Homo sapiens: one gene and its partner. The protein of the gene in region 1 interacts with the protein of each later gene in a biochemical or structural test. Each region holds a gene or a part of one and is shown on either strand. Other genes may lie near its edges.

What was found.
Region 2: the proteins of GRID2IP (region 1) and ATP2A2 interact in a test that uses a peptide from one of them, tested with the Homo sapiens proteins (one large-scale study listed by IntAct).

Annotation. Positions count from the first base shown.
Region 1 is NC_000007.14:6,496,278-6,499,461, forward strand, and holds the end of GRID2IP (delphilin), read right to left. Parts: intron 1,952-3,184; coding exon 1,787-1,951; intron 1,569-1,786; coding exon 1,497-1,568; 3' UTR 501-1,496; downstream 1-500.
Region 2 is NC_000012.12:110,343,747-110,347,246, forward strand, and holds part of ATP2A2 (sarcoplasmic/endoplasmic reticulum calcium ATPase 2), read left to right. Parts: intron 1-1,139; coding exon 1,140-1,225; intron 1,226-1,502; coding exon 1,503-1,636; intron 1,637-2,254; coding exon 2,255-2,372; intron 2,373-2,454; coding exon 2,455-2,724; 3' UTR 2,725-3,500.

The sequences.
Region 1 (3,184 bases):
TAATTTTGTGTATTTTTAGTAGAGATATGGCTTCACTATGTTGGCCAGGCTGGTCTTGAACTTCTGGCCTCAGGTGATCCACCTGCCTCAGCCTCCCGAAGTGTTGGAATTACAGGCGTGAGCCCCCACGCCCTGCCTGCAGAGGTTTTAACTGACCTCCTGACATGTTTCCCAGAGACACAGGCACTGGGAACTTTTGGAAACAATTCTGCTTGAGCTGCTAGGGTGAAATGTACCCCACTAGCCACATCCCCCTTGCAGTATATATTTTGGTTTTGATGTTTTTGTATGGTGCTTGTGTGCAAGGAACAAAAAAACAAAGGTGGCTTCCAAGAGGGGCCTAGGGGAGACTGGGAAGAACTGAACAGGTTCCCAGTACTGCCCAGGTGCAATGTAAGCCATTTGATTGCAGTGGGAGAAAAAGAATCCATGAGACAGGATTAAAGCCCATTTCAGACTTTTCCAAAAAAAAAAAAAAAAAAAAGTGCAACGAGGGAAGCTGTCTGATCCAAGGATCTGTCAATCAGAGAATTTTAAAAAAGGTGAAACAGTTCACACACCCTCCCTCCCTGCCCACCACGCCACCTGCTCCTGCTCCTGGTATCCAGGTAACTCCTGCTATATGCCTAGGCACATGTAAAATGACCATTTGGGTCCCAAACACATCCCAGATTGTGTCATCTGCCCCCACACCTGCCCCGGTCTCATGACTTGCTCCAGGGAACATCACCATCCGTCCAGGTGAGAAGTCTGGCAGTTGGCCACCAGATCCTGCTCACCTCCTGCCTCAACACCTCCCCATTCTGTCTGCTCTACCTTGACCACACCTATTCCACTCCCAGGCTCCCCACTTCCAATTGGGCCACCTCTACACAGGTTTGGGTTTGTCCACTGCATGAAACCTCAATTCCGCAGTCTGACATAGGGGGTCTTCCTTCTCCAGTCCTTCCTTCCCTGCGTCTCTCCCAGGCTTCTCTCTTCCTGTGTCCCTGAAGCCAGCTTCCAAGGCCCAGGCTGGGCGTGCACATCCCCAGGGCCCCTCTACATCCGGCTTTCTGCCCTCTCGCGTCTCGCGCCTGCCTGCAGGGTCGTGCTCAAGGGTGTCGGCCCCCTCACAGGGACCCACTAGGAGCAGGATCAGAAAAAAGGTCCACATGTCCCAGGAATGTGGCCACTTTGTAATCCACCCTCCAGGCCCCCCTGACAGCCTGGGAGCGAAGTGGGAAGTGGGCCCAAGAAGCCGACAGAGCACGGTCCTCCATGTGCAGGCACACTCAGCACCTGCTCCTACAGCATCTGGCTCTGGGCCTGGGGGTAGGAACAAGGGCTGGCAGAGGAGGGCCCGACCACAGCTCGGCGGCTGAGGTAGCTGCAGGAGAGGCTGGCGGTGTGCTCAGAGCCCGGGGCACAGTGGCCCCGGACCTCGGCAGTGTCTGGGCTGCCCTCTCGGCCTCCATCTCCCTGCTCAGGCCGCAGAGGACGCGGTGTGGCCACTGTCACCAGGCCAGGGGTGAAACCATCCCGGAGCTGCGCAGGCCCTCCCCGGCCTGCAGGTCACTCAGCGCTCGCTGGGGAGGGGGAACACAGAGGTAGGGTGGTCAGTGGTCCCAGGAACCTGTGACGCCTTCCCTGTCTCTTCCCACACTAGACAGCCCATCAGGGGGTTAGGGGGACATGTCGCTCACTGGAGCCCCTTTCCCAGCCCTGGCTTCATGGAGGATCCCTTCATTTGGCCTCTGGCCCCCACCTCTCCAAAAGGGCCCCTCAGGGCTCCAGCGAGGCTCACCTCGAATTTGCTCATGAACTCTGCAAAGATGCCGAAGAAAGCCTCAGAGGTGGTGGCCTTGGAATCCTCCCCAAAGAAGGCCAGCGCCTTGCCCAGCTCCTCCATGGCCTCGCGCTGCAGCCCGTCGAGCGCCCGAAGTGCTGGCTGGGCCGTCTCCAGGAAGGACTGACAGGCCTCAGTTAAGGAAACAGCCAGCCCGCTTGTGCCCCCAGGGTCTCAGGTGGTGGCCCGACAGACAGGTCCCTAGCAGCCCTATTCCCGGTTGGCCTGAGTCCTTCCAAGGGCCAGGCCCTGTGTCCAACAGGGAACCAGGCCCTGTTCAGGGACTCTAGTCCCACTGGCCACTGAACTCATCCTGGAACTGGCCACAGCCAGTGCAGCCTCAGGCCATTCACCCCTGTTCTCTCTGCAGGGCCAGGCCCTGGGTCTCTGATCAGAGGCTTCCACTGCCACCTTCTTCCCCAACCACTCATTTACAGTAGGCCCCTCTGTCACTCTCTAGGCCTTACTTTTTTTTTTTTTTTTTTTTTTTTTGAGACAGGGTCTTATTCTGTCGCTCAGCCTGGAGTGCAGTGGTGTGATCACAGCTCACAGATCATTCCAGCCTCTACCTCCCAGGCTCAAGTGATCCTCCCACCTCAGCCTCCCGAGCAGCTGGGACCAGAGGTTTACACCACCATACCCAGCTAATTTTTTGATTTTTAAAATAGAGATGGGGTGTATGTTGCCTAGGGTGGTCTCAAACTCCTGGGCTCAAGTGATCCTCCCACTTTGGCCTCCCAAAGTGCTGGGATTACAGGTGTGAGCCACTGCACCTGGCCTTAGGCCTTACTCTGTTTTCTAGAGCATTTGTCATGATCTGAAATTGTTCATAAGTTCATTTCCTACTGCCTAAGTGAAAGCTCGCTCCCTCCTTGCACCTCCAGGGCTTAGAATAGCATCTGATACATGGTCAGTCTTGCAAAAAGATTCAGTGGCTGAATCGCTATCATTTTTTCAGCACTTAAAATGGTGCCGAGCTTTGTTCCAAGCTTGTTGAATCATCGTTTAACACCTCTATGAGGTAGATTATCTCTATTTTACATGTGAACAAATTAAAGCACACAGGACTTTAGCAACTAGCCCAAGATCACACAGCAAGCACTGTGGTGCCTGAGCCACGGTTGAACCCACCAGGGTCACATCAATTAATGACCACTGTGGTAGAGGTTCTCATGACCCCTCTTTTTCCTGATGAGAAAACTGGGCTCACAGAGGGTAACTGACTTGCCCATAGTCCCACAGCAGGTAAGGAAATGAGCCAGGATTTGGGCCTATGCCTGTCTGATGTGCCAGGTCAATTTCCTTTGCAGAGGCTGCCTTTAATTAATTAATTAATTAATTTTGAGACAGAGTCTC
Region 2 (3,500 bases), on another chromosome or scaffold:
TCATAGGTGGGATTTAAATAGATAATTGTCACCAAGTTATAAAATTTAGTCCCTGTTTCCATAAGAGAAGGGTTGCGCAGTGGCTGGTCCCTTTTATATATAAATCATCTCTTTAGCCCTCATCTTCCTCACCCCGGGTTCTTCCCCATTTCATAGATTGGGAAAGTGAGGTGAAATCACTTCCCTGGGATCCCATAGGAAGGCATTGTGTTTTCATAATATATTCACATGACTTCAAATTCAAAAAGCACACAATGGCATAGAATGGAAAGGGTTTGGGCCAGTCACTTCCCTCTGGCGTTGAGGTGCTCATGTACCCTGTGCCCTTCCGGAGAGATTCCAGCATGCTGTGCACACCTGCATGTTGACCCTTGTCTTGCCTTCTTCCTGCTTGTCAGATCCTTCCATATCCGGACATGCGTAGTGCCTCATCCTTGCAGCCAGCGGCCTTCATGCTCCACTGTAATTCGTGGGTTAGTGGGTATATGCACTTGTTGTTTTTGATGCTACCACATGGGGATATTTGCCTCGTCTGAACTCTGTGTATTCTCTGCTGCACCTTGTTGCTTCTTTGCAATAAACTTCCTGAACTCAAAGCTAATACTGGGGGGAATCCCAGAAGCTGCTGAGGGCAGGGCCATGCTGCTCAGTGTTCCACCCTAGCTCCTGACAGCATTTCCCTAGAAAACTGCTGCTGGGCCTCTAATGGAGCAAATAAATCTGTGTACAACTAGGCAGCAATAGTTTGTCCAAAAGTCCTGGTGTAATCTAGTCCCTCAAACTGTGCAGCCTTACATGGAGTACACACACACTTGCAGCCTTGAAGTACTACCCACTGAGGGGAGAAGGCACGGCAAGGGGAAAGGTTGGCACAGGATGGAGCAAGTGCTTTTTCTCACACATTCTGGAGGAAAAGTTATCCAGTTCTTCTGTTCTAGAAACACCCCTGTCCTTCAGAAACCAGGGTCTAGTTGCTCTGGCTACCAGGCGTGAGCAGGTGGTGGTAGCACCACAGGCCCCGGTTACCATCACTGTCCCATGTCTTTGATCTTCGTCCTTGTGGGGACTGGCCTGCATGGCCTCGGTGGCAGCGAGCCCTGCAGAGGCAAGTGCATCAGCATCACTGTGTTTGTTCCCAGGTTACGTCGGCGCTGCTACCGTGGGTGCTGCTGCATGGTGGTTCATTGCTGCTGACGGTGGTCCAAGAGTGTCCTTCTACCAGCTGGTACTCAGTCACCTTTCTTTCTGTACCTTACATGAGAAGTGTTGTGAGGCCTTGACCTTTCTGTGGTTTCGGTATCTATCAAATCATCTTAAGACTCAGACAATAAACAGTTACATCTAAGATGATTCTGAAGGACCAGGGCTTCTCCGAGAAATTGGGGTAAACCTCTTGGCTGGCTCTGCATTCAGGCTGGTCTGTGCTAGGCTTGGTATGGGGTTGGAGCCTGGACTTGGGAAATATACTGGGCTGATAGGAATTTGATTGGATTTTCTTGCAGAGTCATTTCCTACAGTGTAAAGAGGACAACCCGGACTTTGAAGGCGTGGATTGTGCAATCTTTGAATCCCCATACCCGATGACAATGGCGCTCTCTGTTCTAGTAACTATAGAAATGTGTAACGCCCTCAACAGGTTAGTGCACCTTCACGGCAGGCTGAGGCGAGCATGGTGACTGCCAGGGCACCGGGGAATTGTGTGTAGTCACGGTTGATTGAGGATCACAGGACAGTTCTTCCCTTCCCAAAAGAAAGGAGAACAGGCAATACCAGTTTTAAAAGCATGAGCTGTCGTCACCTCCAGGAAGTAGTGGGAGTGCTTAGCCCTGTGTTTCTTAGGAGCTCTTCCTTAAAAGAAACCGTGGGGGCCAAAAATAGGAACTTTGGTACCCCTGTATGCCAGCACCCACAGGGAAGGAACCTCACCCTTTCACACAGACAAATGGTACCATCCAGTTAAGCCCGTGACAAAAATGGAAATTTCTAAATAGCCCAAGTCTCCAGGGCAATTGGGAACAGCTTTGAACCCACTAAGATGGGGTCTGCTATGCCAAAACATAGATACAGAATTCACAGTTTGTCCTGCATTAGGACATTCTCTTCAACTTTGCCACTGTAGAAAGTGGAGGTAGGTCAGCGGATGGTGCCACATTAACAGCCGCCTTACTGAAGTGTAGTCCAACAGGGTCTTACTGCCACTGTGACACGTGCCTTGCCTTGGGGGTGCGTTTCCCCACCTCTCCTTGCTCTGCAGCTTGTCCGAAAACCAGTCCTTGCTGAGGATGCCCCCCTGGGAGAACATCTGGCTCGTGGGCTCCATCTGCCTGTCCATGTCACTCCACTTCCTGATCCTCTATGTCGAACCCTTGCCAGTAAGTGGTTGGGTGGGGCTTGGGACCAGCCACCTCCTTCCAGGGGAGGCTGGAGGCGTGACACGTCTTCCCTGTGTGTCAGCTCATCTTCCAGATCACACCGCTGAACGTGACCCAGTGGCTGATGGTGCTGAAAATCTCCTTGCCCGTGATTCTCATGGATGAGACGCTCAAGTTTGTGGCCCGCAACTACCTGGAACCTGGTAAAGAGTGTGTGCAGCCTGCCACCAAATCCTGCTCGTTCTCGGCATGCACCGATGGGATTTCCTGGCCGTTTGTGCTGCTCATAATGCCCCTGGTGATCTGGGTCTATAGCACAGACACTAACTTTAGCGATATGTTCTGGTCTTGACTGACAGTTTTCCATAAAGAAGATGTTTAACTTAATCAATTAATTTTTTTATTGTTTAAAGCAACTGTCTATTTCTGCTGAATTTTCACATGAACATACTGGCTGGTGATGGAGGTTTCATACTCTAGATTTTGTTTTGCTTTTTCTGACTCCAGTGGGGCAAGATTTTCCTTTTTTATACACATAATTAAAGTGTCCATTGACATGTACAGAGAACTAACACTATTTTATGCAAATATTTTTTTGTAGATGAAAAAGCATGTACAGTGTTCTGTTTAATACTCATCCTTGTATAAAAAAAATAGTTGAGCCAGCAGACATTGTCAGCAAATTAATTGGCAGCAGATTTTAGGAAATGAATGTGTGTGGTTTTTTTTCTAAAACTAAATAGCATGTATTGTGTCTTTTGCATGATGATCCGGATTTAATTTGATATCACAGTCTAATTTTTATTCATAAGCCAATTTTTCTGCACTGAGCAGAGTCTTGCTACCTCAGTCAGTATTGTTTTGGTTTGCTACTTCCCTCACCCACTTTGGCCTCCGTTCACCCCACCCCACCCCACCTCTCCCCACCTTACCCCCGCCCCGCTTGGCTTCTTCTTTAGGATTGTGATGGTTCGTTCTGTTTACATCAGTTTTAACGAGAGGTATGCCTGTACTCGCTTGTGCAGAAAACATTGTTCCAGATTCAATCGACTGGGTTTATGTCCCTTCACATAGTTTTTAAGGTTATTTATTTAAATGTCTAATGTATTTTATTGTAACAGACATTGT